Linked DNA regions of Homo sapiens. The protein of the gene in region 2 interacts with the protein of the main gene of each other region in a pairwise test. Each region holds a gene or a part of one and is shown on either strand. Other genes may lie near its edges.

Region 1 (7,587 bases), about 26 Mb from region 2:
TGTTGCGGGCATTACACAGCTCCATCCCATGAGGCAGGGGTGACTGTTATTTGCATCTTACAAATGAAGAAACTGAGGTGGACAGTTAAAATCCTTGCCCCTAGGACTAAGCTGGTGCAGGTCCTGGGAGCATCAGCAGTGATTGATTGAGTCACAGCCTCACCACTGCAGCCAGACCTGAACTTCCTCACAGCTCAGCAACACCCAGCAGGTCACTGAATGTCCCCAGGGCAAGTCCTCTACTCACTCACAATTACCGGGAGCTCAGTAGAAGGCACCCATCGTCCATTATTTTATTAAATATTTAGGCCGGGCACGGTGGCTCATGCCTGTAATACCAGCATTTTGGGAGGCTTAGGTGGGCAGGATCACCTGAGGTCAGGAGTTTGAGACCAGCCTGGCCAACATGGTTGAAACCCCATCTCTACTAAAAATACAAAAATTAGCCAGGCGCGGTGGCAGGCGCGTGTAATCCCAGCTACTCTGGAGGCTGAGGAAGGAGAATTGCTTGAAACCAGGAGGCAGAGGTTGCAGTGAGCTGAGATCGCGCCACTACACTCCAGCCTGAGCGACAGAGTAAGACTCTGTCTCAAAAAAAAAATAAATAAATAAATAAAAAGAAAATTTCTGGGCCATCGGCTCAGTGCAGGACTTTGTTCTACAGCAGTGATAAGTGCTGCCCTCTGATAGTGCAGTGTGGCAGTTGGGGTGGGAGAGGCTAATGAGATCAAGAAAACACGTAGCATGCCAGACAATAGTAAGTGTTAAGGGAAAGGGGGTGCAGAAAAGTGCACACAAGAATGAGCTGCAGTTCATTACATTGTTTTAGAGACAGGGTCATGTCCAGGCATGGTGGCTCACGCCTATAATCCCAGCACTCTGGGAGGCCGAGGCGGGCAGATCACTTGAGGTCAGGAGTTTGAGACCAGCCTGCCCAACATGGCGAACCCCATCCCTACTAAAAACACAAACATTCGGCAGGTGTGGTGGCACACTTGGGAGGTTGAGATAGGAGAATCGCTTGAACCCAGGAGGCGGAGCTTCCAGTGAGCTGAGATCACTGCACTCCAGCCTCCGCAACAGAGCAAGACTCTGTCTAAAAAAAAAAAAAGGGCCGGGCGCGGTGGCTCATGCCTGTAATCCCAGCACTTTGGGAGGCTGAGGCGGGCGGATCACGAGGCTAGGACATCGAGACCATCCTGGCTAACACGGTGAAACCCCGTCTCTACTAAAAATACAAAAAATTAACCAGGCGTGGTGGCGGGCGCCTGTAGTCCCAGCTACTCGGGAGGCTGAGGCAGGAGAATGGCGTGAACCCAGGAGGCGGAGCTTGCAGTGAGCAGAGATCGCGCCACTGCACTCTAGCCTGGGCGACAGAGCTAGACTCCATCTCAAAAAAAAAAAAAAAAAAAAGAGGGTCATGCTCTGTCGACCACACTGGAGTGCAGCGGAGTACTGATGGCCTAGGGAAGAACCTTTTCTTTGAAGGGGAAATGGTGAAGGCCCTGAGCAGGGCCTGCTTTGCTCAGGAATGGCCGTAAGTCCTATAGCATCAGCATCTTAGAGATGGGGATAGGGTGGCCAAAGCGTGTCAGTGGGTTTCCCTCAAGAAAGAGCTGGATCCGAAGTCGTCTGGACTCTAGAGCCATCCATTCCTCGGGGGGACCTCACCTGGATGGTCTGGGCGCACAGGGAGCAGCAGGCCCCTGGATCCCCCTGGTCTGGCTCAGGCTCCGCGTCATCAAAGGGACCTGCGCGGCGCCTTGGGGCCGGGGCCTGGGGCGGTGGAGGCCCGAAGGCCAGAGGCACGTGCGGCGGCGGCGGGAGGCAGAGGTCCTGGCGGAGGTCTGGGCGCACCCAGCGCAGCGTGAGCGGGAGGCGAGCCCAGGGCGGTGCGCGCAGCATGTGCGCCAGCACGCGCAGGTGGAAAGCGAAGGCTGTCTCTCCTCGCAGGCGAGGCCCCACGTGCGCCAGGCGGCGCGAGGCGTGCGGGTGCTGCCAAGCCCACTCAAACTGCGGGCGGCGTACAGGGGCATCAGGGCGGCTCGGAGCGAGGGGCGGAACCCAAGCCCTCACCCGGCCGCCGCTGCCCGGTCTCCTTCCTTACCCGAAGGGCGGCCACGGAGGACGGGAAGCCGTGCACGACGAGCACCATCTCCCTGAGGAGGAGAACCGTGATGTCCCTGTCGCAGCCCAGCGCCTCAGCCGCGGGTCCCCTCCAATCCCACCCGAGAGCGGGGTCCTCATTCCCGGCTTCAGCCGAGAAGTGCAGCCCTCTGCACCTGCCCACCTCAGGCCCTGCCTCCAGCCCAGGTACCCACCTGTCCCACCTCCTCTCTCTCCTGCATTCCACCCGACCCCAGCGTGCCCACCAAGAGCCCTATGCTGGAACCCAGCCTGGATCATCACCCCCGCCCCAGCTAGCTCCTTCCCTGAGTTCCGCCGCGGAGATGCCCCGGGCACCGCCTCCCCGTCACGCTCCTCCCCTGCGACAGGCCCCGTCCCCACCACAGACGCCCCGCCTCTGTCACAGTCCTGGCCGGTCCTTCTCAACAGGCCTGTGCCCCGCGGGGTCCGCCTCCTCTGGGACGCCTTCCTCCCGGCACAGAAGGCCTCCCCCTCTCACCAGGGCCCTCGCCCGCTGGTCCGCCAGGCCCCGCCTTTTTTGCGGCCCCCATTGTGCTGCTGGACCCGACGAGCAGTGTTGACAGTGAACCCCACGTAGACGCGGCCCCGGTACCGGGGGTTCAGGCAGTAGAGCAGGTAGACGCCGAAAAAGCGCCCTGGCCTCGCCGCGACCCCCGCGGGACCCATCGGGCCTTGGGGTTCGGGAACCACAGCAGGGGGTTGATTGCCGTGACCTAGGGTCCAGGGGAGGGCTGGATCGCTAGGGCTGCAGGGTGCTTGCTTCGGAACAAGCTCTCGGGGACTATCCGGAGGCAGCCTGCAGGAAGCCGTAGCGCCGGTACGTGCCCCTCTCCTGTCTGGAGGCGGGTGTAGAAGTCCGACCGCGGAAGCCAGACTGCTGTCCAGTCGGCGAGCGCGTACCATTCAGCATCGGCTCCGCCCGAGTCCCACCTTCCTCAGGCTCTGATTGGCTGACACATGGCAAGCGCGAAAAGCCTGGACCGCTGGAAAGCCCGGCTGCTTGAGGGCGGAAGTACTGCGTTGACGTACGCCTTAGTAAGGGCGGAAGTGAGTTTTCCAGCGGAAGTGGCTCCTGTAAGGCAGCAAGGTAGCGTGGCCGGCGCCCGAGCTGGGGTTGTGTCCCTGCTGGGCTGCCGTTCCAGCTGGACTGCCGCCATGGAACTCAGCGCCGAATACCTCCGCGAGAAGCTGCAGCGGGACCTGGAGGCGGAGCATGTGGTGAGTTGAGCCGCCGGACAAGGGGAAAAGAGCTCGGGGGGCGGGTTCGGCACCATTCATATTCTTCCGCTCGGTAGGAGGTGGAGGACACGACCCTCAACCGTTGCTCCTGTAGCTTCCGAGTCCTGGTGGTGTCGGCCAAGTTCGAGGGGAAACCGCTGCTTCAGAGACACAGGTAAGGCCCTGGGAGCACCTTGCCTAGCTCCTGTACCACAACCCCAGCCACTCCCCCTACCCCTGCAACCTGACTCCCGCACTCCCCCTGGCGTGGCTCAGGGACCTTGAGGATCCCGCCTTCGTGACCCCTGCTTCGAGTATTTCGATGTAGACCCTCTCTCCAAGTACGTGTTCCCACGGCCTGGGGACTACAACCTTGGGGACACCAGTCTCTTGGGTCACCCTAGCCTCGGGGTGTGCGATCACCGCTGGCCTTTTCCTAACCCCATCTCTCGCCCCAGGCTGGTGAACGCGTGCCTAGCAGAAGAGCTCCCGCACATCCATGCCTTTGAACAGAAAACCCTGACCCCAGACCAGTGGGCACGTGAGCGACAGAAATGAGGGACTGGGATCTGCACAGCCATTAAATTATAAATCTGGACCAGCTTCTGTGTCGATGTGTGTGTGGGAGGGGTGCTGAGGCCGAGTCTAGGACCTGGCCTCTCCCTGCCCTGCCTCCGTCCATTGTTTTACCTTGGACACGTCTCTGTCCCCATCTAGGCCTCTATCCCTGCTTGTAAAATGAAAGTTCTACCGTAAAAGTCCCTTCCAGGGTCTACCGAGAAAGCCTTCTCTCTGCAACTCCGTTTAGACATCTAGGAGTCTGTACTGCCACCACCTACCCACCTCCTAGAGAGCTCAGGGTTCCTCCTCTCTGCTAGCCTTCAAGATGCAGAGATGAGAAAGTGATCGGGGTTTCAGGGCCCTGACCAGTTGAACAAACCTCTCCCTGACATTACCGCAGTATCAGAGGCACCATATAGAATTCCACATATTCCTTGCAGGTTCCCCCCGGCCTTCTCAGGCCCAAGAGGGAGTGGTGCCCAGGTAGGGGCTCATCAACTCCTGGAATGCTGATGTTTTCAGACCCACTGGAGAAGGTTCCAGTGGCCCCATAGCCCTGGGCTTAATGTGTCTACAGCTGCCCCCGGAGGACCATGGAGGTTTTAAGAATAGTGGGTGTGGGACGGGGATAGGGGTGAGATTAGAGTAGGAATATAAGGCTGACCTGAGTCAGAAAATTGGGGCAGGTGATGCCCCTGTATCAGTCTTCATAACAGGTTAGTAGGGTTGCTAGGACCTTGTTTGTTTTATTTGTTTTTTGTTGTTTGAGACAGGGTCTTGCTCTGTCGCCCAGGCTGGAGTGCCGTGGCGCCATCTCAGCTCATTGCAACCTCTGCCTCCCAGGTTCAAAAGATTCTTGTGCTTCAGCCTCCTGAGTAGCTGGGATTACAGGGGTGCACCACCATGCCCGGCTAATTTTTGTACTTTTAGTAGAGACAGGGTTTCACCATGTTGGCCAGGCCAGTCTCAAACTCCTGGCCTCAAGTGATCTGCCCGCCTTGGTCTCCTAAAGTGCTGGAATTTTAGGCGTGAGCCATTGTACCTGGCCCAGATTGCTAGGACTTTGAACAGAGGTCCCTGAGACCTAGGGAGGGAGCCCAAATAACCTAGTTGGGGCCAGGGCTCGTTGAGAGTGAGAAATTGCAAGTTTCAGCCATCACACACTCTTTTCCTGCGTTTTTTTGTTTGTTTGTTTGTTTGTTTTGAGACAGAGTCTTGGCTCTGTTGCCCAGGCTGGAGTGCAGTAGCATGATCTTGGCTCACTACAACTTCCCCCTCCCGGGTTCAAGCGATTCTCCTGCCTCAGCCTCCCTAGTAGCTGGGATTACAGGCACACGCCACCATGCCCAGCTAATTTTTGGGGTTTTTTTATTGTTTGTTTGTTTGTCTGTTTTTGAGACAGAGTTTCACTCTTGTTGCCCAGGCTGGAGTGCAATGGCACGATCTCGGCTCACCACAACCTCCGCCTCCTGGGTTCAAGCGATTCTCTTGTCTCAGCCTCCCAAGTAGCTGGGATTACAGGTATGTGCTACCACGCCCGGCTAATCTTGTATTTTTAATAGAGACAGGGTTTCTCCATGTTGTTCAGGCTGGTCTTGAACTCCCGACCTCAGGTGATCCACCCGCCTCGGCCTCCAAAAGTGCTGGGATTACAGGCGTGTGCCACTTATGCCCAGCTTTCTTTTTTGTTTTCTTCCCACACCTCTACTGCCCAAGTAGTTTTCTATGGCATACTGAAGAGGTGGGGCCTGGAAATGACGCCATGGGTGGTCCCTGCTTGATATGAACCAAACCTTACTATGGCTAAGACGCCCATCCCAAACAGCCCTGTGTCCTCCCATCTCAGGATCACCTGCTAAGTTGGGTATCAAAACCTATTCCCACACCCACTCCCCACAAGGCCTGACAGACCTGTTCCTGCCAGGTCTCTCACAGAGGTCAGGCCCAGGCAGAACCCACAGGAAGGGCTAGAGAGGCAGAAGCACTCACTACACGGGGGAAGGCTCTGAATTCAAAAGGGGAGACATAAGGCCAGGCACAGCGGCTCATGCCTGTAATCCCAGCACTTTGGGAGGCTGAGGCAGGCAGATGACTTGAGGCCAGGAGTTTGAGACCAGTCTGGCCAACATGGTGAGACCCCACCTCTACTGAAAACACAAAAGTTAGCCGGACGTGGTGGCACATGCCTGTAATCCCAGCTACTTGGGAGTCTGAGGCACGAGAATGGCTTGAACCCAGAAGGCAGAGGTTGCGGTGAGCCGAGATTGTGCCATTGTACTCAATTTGGGCAACAAGAATGAAACTCCATCTCAGAAAAAATTAAATAAATAAAAAAGTGGGGAGACTTGGACTCTGACTTGGGATCTGCCCTTCAGTGAGCTGGGCTCCTGCTCCCGGCCTCAGTTTCTTCTCTGGTAAACTAGGATCAGCCTGTTGCCTTAATTCTGTCTTTTCCTTAGAAGAAGTTCCCCTGTTTCATATATTAAAATATATAATATATAAAACATATATATAAAATATATATAATTTATATTATAATATATAATATAATATAATATAATATATTATAATATATATTATATATTATACTATATTATTATATAGTATAATATATAACTTATTACTATATAATATAATATATAATTTATTATTATATAATATAATATATATTATATATTAAAATATATAATTAATATATATAATATTTATATATTAAAATATAATATATATAATATTTATATATTAAAATATATTATATATAATATATTTATATATTAAAATATATAATATATATAATATATTTATATATTAAAATATATATGATGTATTTATACATTTAAAAAAAAAAAAATATATATATATATATATTTTTTTTTTTTTTTTTTTTGAGACGAAGTCTCACTCCTGTCCCCCAGGCTGGAGTACAATGGCATGATCTCGGCTCACTGCAACCTTTGCCTCCCGGATTCAAGCAATTCTCTTGCCTCAGCCTCCTGAGTAGCTGAGATTACAGGCGCCTGCCACCATGCCCAGCTAATTTTTGTATTTTTAGTAGAGATGGGGTTTCACCATGTTGGCCAGGCTGGTCTCGAACTTCTGACCTCAGGTGATTCACCCACCTCGGCCTCCTAAAGTGCTGGGATTACAGGCGTGAGCTGCCACACCCGGCCTATTTATATTTTTTAGAGACAGTGTCTTGCTCTGTCACCCAGGCTGCAGTGCAGTGGTGCAATGGCTCATTGCAGCCTCGACCTCCTGGGCTCAAGGGATCCTCCTGCCTCAGCCTCCTGAGTAGCTGGAACTATAGGTGCCCACCACCATGCCTGGCTAATTTTTTATTTTATTTTTCGTAGAGACGGTATCTCGCCGTGTTGCTCAGGCAGGTCTCAAACTCCTGGGCTCAAATGATCCTGCCGCCTCAGCCTCCCACAGTGCTGGGATTATAGACGTGAGTCCCCATGCCCAGCCTCCCTCGTTATTTTTATCTTTGGACCTGCAGTTTAAAAGATGCCTACCCTGTAAGTGATGGTTGGTTCATTTCCTCACAAGCAACAGTGCCAGCAGAGTCACGTGCAACGTGATGTTTTGGTTGACTAGGAAAGGCAGATTTTTGGTAAATTTGGGAATTATTGAGGTTCTAAGCTAGGGCCTTAAATAGTT
Region 2 (7,987 bases):
CTGGTTCTGCTCTTTAAGGTAAGAAACGGTTTCCCACAAATCGGGCACTCAGGGATCTGAGGCACAGAAGGTCTTAGTGTCTTTTCAGCTTCATCCAAGCACCTGAAGGAAAACAGTCAATACAGGAGAACCACCCTCCCCAGGAATGTGGATTGGAGCAAATGTGGGTCCAGGTCAACACAGACGTGCTGTGGTCAAAGCAAGTTCCCCAAAGCCAATCCCCTCTACACAGCCTGGCTCCGTCTCCCGGCAGTCAGCCCCTAGACACTACACTTAGGTATCTGTCAGCAAAGTTGGCTAAAGAAAGCAAGGAAAGATTAAATGCAGTTACATGATGACTTAGAAATTCCACTCCTAAGTAGAGACCCCAAAGAACTGAAAGCAGGTACCCAAACAAATACATGAAACCCATGTTCACGGCAGCTCTATCCACAATCCCAAAGGGTAGAAATGCTCCAAATGTCCGCCAATGGACGAAAGGATAAACCATGGTCATATTCCTCATCTAAGAATGGGAAAAACACAGTCTAGCCATACAATGAGATACTGCTCAGCCATAAAAAGGAATGAAGCCTGCTCCATGCTACAACATGGATGAACCTCAAAAACAACATATTAAGTCAAAGAAGGCAGACACAAAAGGACAACTGTGCAATTTCAGAATCGGCAAATCCATCCAGACAGAATGTTGATTAGTGGTTGTCAGGGGAGAGAGGGGCAATAGGGAGTGGCTGCCAATGGGTGTGGGGATTCTTTTGGGGGTGATGAAAATAATCCAGAAGTGATTGTGGTGACAGTTGCCCAACTGTGTGAATATCCCAAAAGTAGTGATTTGTTCAGTTTAAATGGGTGAACTATATGTTCTGTGAATTGTATCTCAACGAAGTTATTTTTAAAAAGGGGTAGGTTGACAACAAAGCTGAGGTGCTGTTGTCATGGTAAGGTGTGGAGATCCGCACTCCAGCCCTGGGGTGCTTGGGGATTCTGGTCACATACACGGGAGAGGCGACGGCCCAAGCTGCCCCCACCTGTTCACATGCTGTTCCCTTCGGGTCACGTTCATGGCTGAGAGGTTCTTTTGACAAATCTGGCAGAAGAACAAACCCTTTTCCTCCAGGCTATCATCATGTGCCGATGCTCCTACCCGTGCAAACTCCTGCTGCAGGGTCAAGGCCACCGCAGCGTCGCTCTCTGGGGCAGGGGGCCCAAGCCCATACACTGTGGAGAAGCACCAAAGATCCGTGAGAATAAACTCCAAAGACAAGCTCACCCTCAGACCTCTGCTCTGTCAGCTCCTGCAGACCATGGGGAGCAGGTGGAACGCAAAGAAACCAGAACCCAGCTCCACTCTGCAGGCTGGTGACTTGGACACTGTCCAGTGAGACTGGGCACTAATCAGCACTCCGGGAACAGCCGTCTCCAACTTTAACATGGATATGCATTACCTGGGAAGCTTGTCGACACTCAGATTCAAATTCAAGGGGTCCAGGTGCAGCCTGAGACTCTCCGCATTTCTAGCAGCCTCCAGGCTTGGCGATGCTGGCAGCACAGGACCACTCTGAGTAGCAAGGACCTAAACTTTCCCACTTCTGCTGAAGTTGGCTACCTCGGGCATTGCAAGTTCACAAGGCTCATATTCCAACAAAGCTAGATGTTCTCTTCAAAACTCACCCTTTCCTGCTGACCTTTTACTGCCCATGATAAAACCAGGGCAGAGTGAAATGCCTTTGGCGTTTAAAAGGCAGCATCTCTTACTTAGCATCAGACTCAAGAATGGACTGATTCTGGTCTTGAGATGGCTCCCAGGGTGGCCCATCTGATATTGCTGGAGCAGACCCCTGTCACTCACAAGGGATATGCCCTGAACGCCTCATAAATCCCCAAGTTCTTCATGGCTGTGGCCTACCAGTGCCTGCCACTGAGGCCAGCAAAACAGCACACCTTCATTTTGGTGCCCTGTTTTGTTTGTTTGTTTGTTTTTGAGATGGAGTCTCACACTCTGTCGCCAGGCTGGAGTGCAACGACGCGATCTCAGCTCACTGCAACCTCTGCCTCCCGGGTCCAAGCGATTCTCCTGCCTCAGCCTCCTGAGTAGCTGGGATTACAGGTGCCCACCACACCTGGCTAATTTTTAGTAGAGACAGGGCTTCACCATGTTGGCCAGGGTGGTCCTGAATTCCTGACCTCAGGTGATCTGCCCGCCTTGGCCTCCCCAAAGTGCTGGGATTACAGGCGTGAGCCACCGCGTCCAGCCTGGTTTGGTTTCTTAACAAACAAATGGTTTATCTCTTTCTGAGCACTTGCTGGGTGTGATGTGAAGATACAGAGAGAACTGAGTCAAATGCTGGGCAGGGGCGGAGCTCACACCAGCTGGGTGCCTCCTCTGCAACTCACATGTGCGTCCAGGACTGATGCCTCGGCAGGACATCAAATCACTGCCTGCTGTGGACCCTGGGGTGGCCTGAGACTCCTCCGTGCTACTGCAGTGAAATCTGCAATGCAATGCCAAGATCCTGCATACTTATTAGCTGTAGGTCTGCCGATAATGGTTTCTTCCTATTTCTTTTCCTTTTGTATATTTTCATCAGAGATGAGAATCCATATTGTTTTGGGGATGGAGAACAGGAGCACCTGGCATTATTACGCTTATTGGGCCGGTGCCACACCAAGTACACAGCAGCTATGGGGCACTGTCGCCACCCTGTCTCACCTGCAGCCAATGAGCCTCTAATCTACTCAGAGTGGGGCAACCCAATGGTTAGAGGAAGGAGTTAACGATCCCATAAAGAAATAAATCCAGAAAGTGGGAAATCTTATAATACAATTAGCCTAGCCTCTTCAAAAACTCAGTGTCATAGGGCTGGGTGTGGTGGTTCACACCTGTAATCCTAGCACTTTGGGAGGCTGAGGAGGGCAGATCCCCTGAGCTCAGGAGTTCAAGACCAGCCTGGGCAACATGGTGAAACCCCATTTCTAGTAAAAATACAAAAAAATTAGCCGGGTGTGGTGGTGGGTGCTTGTAATCCCAGCTACTCAGGAGGCCGAGGCACGAGAATAGCTTGAACCTGGGAGGCAGAGGTTGCAGTGAACCGAGATTGTGCCACTGCACTCTAGCCAAGCCTCTGTCAAAAAAAAAAAAAAAAAAAGTCAGTGTCATGGAAAACAAAAGGAAATGGGGGACTATTCTAGAATCTAGACCTTAGGATACTGCTGAGCTACAGCAATATGCAGTGTGTGAACTTACTGAATCCTTGTTCAGAAAAAAAAGAAACCAGCTACAAAAAATAACCTTGAGACAACCAGGGAAATTTGAGTTTGAACTGGACGCCAGGCACTATTATGGAATTAAGCGTGCTAATGGTATTGTGGTTATGCAGCAGAATCTAGGGGTAAAGGATCCTAATGTCTATAATTTACCTTCAGATAATATGGAAGAAAAATATGTACGCTTGGCTAGGCACGGTGGCTCACGTCTGTAATCCCAGCACTTTGGGAGACTGAGGTGGACAGATCACAAGGTCAGGAGTTCCAGAACAGCCTGGCCGGCATGGTGAAACCCCAACTCTACTAAAAATACAAAAATTAGCTGGACGTGGTGGTGCATGCCTGTAGTCCCAGCTTCCTGGAAGCTGAGGCAGGAGAATGGCTTGAACCCAGGAGGTGGAGTTTGCAGTGAGCCGAGATTGCGCCACTGCACCCCAACCTGGGAGACAGACCAAGACTCCATCTCAAAAAAAAAAAAAAATGTATATTTATAAAGACATAAACAAATGGCCAAATGTTAACATTTGTTAAATCTAGATTGAGGTATAGGGGATTAGGGGATTCATTGTAATTTTTTTTTTTTTTTTTTTGAGACAGGGTCTCACTCTGTTGCCCTGGAGTGCAATGATGCAATCACAGCTCACTGCAGCTCAACGTCCTGGGCTCAAGCAATCCTCCCACCTCAGCCTCCCGAGTAGCTGGGACTACAGTTGTGCACCATCATGCCCAGCTAATTAAAAAAAAATTTTTTTTTGAGTCAGAGTCTTGCTCTGTTGCCCAGGCTGGAGTGCAGTGGTGCAATCTCGGCTCACTGCAAGCTCTGTCTCCCAGGTTCACGCCATTCTCCTGCCTCAGCCTCCCGAGTAGCTGGGACTACAGGCACCCACCACCATACCTTGCTAATTTTTTGTATTTTTCATAGAGATGGGGTTTCACTGTGTTAGCCAGGATGGTCTCAATCTCCTGACCTTGTGATCTGCGCACCTCGGCCTCCCAAAGTGCTGGCATTACAGGCGTGAGCCACCACGCCTGGCCCCTAAAATTTTTTTGTAGAGATGGGGGTCTCACTATGTTGTCCAGGCTGGTCTCGAACTTGTGACCTCAAGTAGTCCTCCTGCCTTGGCCTCCCAAAGTTTTGGGATTATAGGCATGAGCCATCATGCCTGGCTTCATTGTAATTAAAACAACAACAACAAAAAAACCTTTTCTGAAAGGAAGAGTTCTTTGTGAATACTGAGGGTTATCTTTTTAAAAGGAAAAAACTGAAAGGGAAAGCTTTCATAATAAAAAGTCATAATTTTTAAAAAAAGGAGGCCAGGCACAGTGGCTCACGCCTGTAATCCCAGCACTTTGGGAGGCCAAGGCGGGTGGATCACGAGGTCAGGAGATCGAGACCATCCTGGCTAACAAGGTGAAACCTTGTCTCTACTAAAAATACAAAAAATTAGCCAGGCGTGGTGGTGGGAGCCTGTAGTCCCAGCTACTCGGGAGGCTGAGGCAGGAGAATGGCGTGAACCTGGGAGGTGGAGCTTGCAGTGAGCTAATATCGTGCCACTGCACTCCAGCCTGGGTGACGGAGCGAGACTCCATCTCAAAAAAAAAAAAAAAAAAAAAAAAGGAAGAGGGCCAGGTGCAATGGTTCACGCCTGTAATCCCAGCACTTTGGGGAGCTGAGGTAGGCAGATCACTTGAGGTCAGGAGTTCGAGACCAGCCTGGCCAACTTGGCGAAACCCTGTCTCTACTAAAAATACAAAAATTGGCCAGGTGTGGTGGCACACGTCTGTAATCCCACTGGCTGGGGCAAGATAATTGCTTGAACCTGGGAGGCGGAGGTTGCAGTGAGCTGAGATCATGTCACTGCACTCCAGCCTGGGTGACAGAGCAAGGCTCTGTCTCAGAAAAAAAAACAAAACGGTACCTTATCAAGGAAGCTAGGTGGGAAATGATCCCAGAGACTCTTCATTCTCTGGCTGGATCCAGTGAAGTGGCAAAGGTAAAACATCAAGCAGAGAGCCTATCCACAGAAGAAACTCAACAAATGCTGATTCCTTCCCGCCTCCCTTCCTCAGAGTTGTATTAACTTATCTCTGTGTGGAAGACAGAAACACACTCATCATACCATTCCCCGCCATCATCTCCTCTTGAGGATCCTTTGGGACATTTTCTTCCCGCGCAGCCTCGAGGGAGCACTCTTCTGAAGCGTGTCTCAAACGCTCGGGGTCTGCTCTCTTGAACTGCTGCATTCGCTGTAGGACCAATTGTGCTGTGCGGGGTTTGGAGGGACTTGGCACTGCTGTTGTCAAACAGGAAGGAGGAGGCTGGGAGTCGCTGTTGGGCACATTCTCTGGCAAGGAGGAAAATATTCACAACCATCTGTTGTAGCTGGAGAAATAAAAGACTTTTCTACCAGATACAGGTTAGACGCAAGTTTCAAGAGTCCTTTATCAACTAGTTTAGGTTTGACTCACAAATGTGAAGAGGACTGGTTGCTTGTTGGTAACCTCTTTGTTTATGGCAATATAGACATAAATATCAATAACAGGAGGGGAATGGGATGTGACTGCTAATGAGCATGGGGTTTATTTTTAGGATGATAAAACTGTTCTAACGTTAGGTAGTGGTGGTGGTTGGACAAGTCTGTGAATATACTAAAAACCACTGAACCATACCCTTTTAAATGGTGAATTTTATGGAATATCAATTATACCCCAATAAAGCTATTATTAAAGAAATATTAATGACAAAGGTTTATGTCCTAGATCAGTTCTTCTTTAACTTGGGATCCACGGATGATCTTCAGTGGGGATCCATGAACCCCATGAAGTTGTGTGCCAGTTTTGCAGATACGCGCATGGATACGTGTTTTGGGGGAACCATGCATAGATTTCATCCGACTGGCAAAGAGCACGAGAGACCAGTAAAGTTGGTGAGGCAACACTGCTGATGCCTTCCAGTAGTCTATGCGACCTGAGACTCTACCACCACTCTACTGAGAGGTTATTAAGATCAGGAAGTGAGGGCAAAGGAAATTTAGAAACAGAACTCAGGAGCTCAGAGAGCCCATGGTGTATTATATATGCAAGGGTAGTTTTCAGTTTTGCATGAAGAATGTGTAGTAAGCATATAGCTCAGTATACCAAGGGCAGCAGGGCAAGAAAACTGCTTTAAACAGTTAAAAAATTATCCAGGCACGGTGGTGGGTGCCTGTGGTCCCAGCTACTCGGGAGGCTGAGGCAGGGAGGACTGCTTGAACCTGGGAGGTCAAGGCTGCAGTAAGCTATGATAGCACCACTGCACTCCAGCCTGGGTGAGAGACCAAGATCCTGTCTCTAAAAACTAAGTAAGTAAATAAATCAATAACAATAACAAAGGAAAAGATTAAAAGGTCTTCAGAGAGAGAAAGAAAGAACCTGAAGATTCTCCTGGGACTTGAGCCCACACAGAGTCCTCATGCGGCCCTCTCAGCAGCCTATCCAAATTGGCTGGCCCAGTCCAACTTACCCACTTTGGAATAAATTCAAGAAAACAAGAGAAGCAGCATTATTGTGTTGTTTGTGTAACTCATGTCAATCATATAACAGAATTTCATAGGAAATTCTGAAAGAGCAGAGGACTCCAAACACAATCATGTGAAAAATTCACACGGGTTATGTTTTTCTTGACTGTTGTTTAAACCAGGAGTCAGCCGGGCGCAGTGGCTTACGCCTGTAATCCCAGCACTCTGAGAGGCTGAGGCACGAGGATTGCTTGAGTCCAGGAGTTCAAGACCAGCCTGGGCAACATAGTGAGACCTCCAGCTCTAAATTTTTTTTTAAGCTTAAAAATTAAAAAATAAAAACAAACCAAAAGTTAGCAAACTACGGTCATGTGGCTGGCTGCCTGTTTTTGTAAATAAAGTTTTACTGGCATATGGCCATGCCTGTTCATTTACATATTGTCCACGCCTGCTTTCTCACTATGACAGCAGAGTTGAGTAGTTGTGACAGAGTCTGTGTGGCCTACAAAGCCAAAATATTTACGATCTGGCCCTTTCCAGGAAGTTTTCCAGCCCCTGGTTTAAAAGAGTACAAATTACCTCTGGTTTTCTCTCTGGAAAGGTTTGGCGATGGTTCTTGCTGGTTACCCGTCTGGGTGTTTTGTGCTGTTTCCCGGAGCACAGGTGGATCTGGAGCAGAGGCAAGCACACCCCCCTCCCCATTCACAGAGTGGGCCGGTTCACTTGCTTGCCATTTGGTTACCCTTTGCTTTTTAGTCCTAGGGGCCTGGCTGCCAGACGGAGGTTTCTTCTCTGCAGGGCCTTGAAGGGTTTTGGTCTTGGTAGCAGTTTGTTTGGTCCTTTTCAATTTGCTTCTTATCTGAGTGCCGTTTGAGGCAGCCTTTTGTGTCTTCCTTTCTCCTGACACTTCCTTGATTCCATGTTTTTTCACCCTTTGGAAAAAGCTAGCGCAGAGTTCTTTAAAGTCCTCATCAGACTCATCCATCATCTGACCAGTTTTAAGGCTTTCAGGCTGGTCTTCAGAGGAGCGAGGGTCAATCCCAGGACAGGCAGACAGATGAGAAAGTGAACCCAAGTAGAAGCCTAGCTGAGCCTCATTCACACTCAGTTTCATTAGGGTTCTTCTCTACTTCTCCATTAGATACTTGGAGAGTTTGCACAATTGAACAAAAAGTACTGTTTTCCTCTCTATAATGATTGAAGTATCTTTGTTCAAATTGGGCCTG

Evidence for each region. The genes of interacting proteins can lie anywhere in the genome.
Region 1: the proteins of SLX4 (region 2) and SLX1B interact in binary tests that used the Homo sapiens proteins (3 or more experiments, as listed by UniProt).

What each region holds. Positions count from the first base shown.
Region 1 is NC_000016.10:29,449,970-29,457,556, reverse strand, and holds the start of SLX1B (structure-specific endonuclease subunit SLX1), read right to left. Parts: upstream 3,025-7,587; 5' UTR 2,815-3,024; coding exon 2,627-2,814; exon of another isoform or gene 2,593-2,626; intron 2,467-2,592; exon of another isoform or gene 2,160-2,466; coding exon 2,108-2,159; intron 2,014-2,107; coding exon 1,672-2,013; intron 1-1,671. Other genes in the region: BOLA2 (bolA-like protein 2), read left to right, coding at 3,106-3,366, 3,482-3,541, 3,825-3,875; BOLA2-SMG1P6 protein, read left to right, coding at 3,106-3,366, 3,482-3,541. UniProt on the Homo sapiens protein: Catalytic subunit of the SLX1-SLX4 structure-specific endonuclease that resolves DNA secondary structures generated during DNA repair and recombination.
Region 2 is NC_000016.10:3,601,090-3,609,076, forward strand, and holds part of SLX4 (structure-specific endonuclease subunit SLX4), read right to left. Parts: 5' UTR 7,876-7,987; coding exon 7,341-7,875; intron 5,610-7,340; coding exon 5,385-5,609; intron 1,219-5,384; coding exon 1,029-1,218; intron 103-1,028; coding exon 1-102. UniProt on the Homo sapiens protein: Regulatory subunit that interacts with and increases the activity of different structure-specific endonucleases.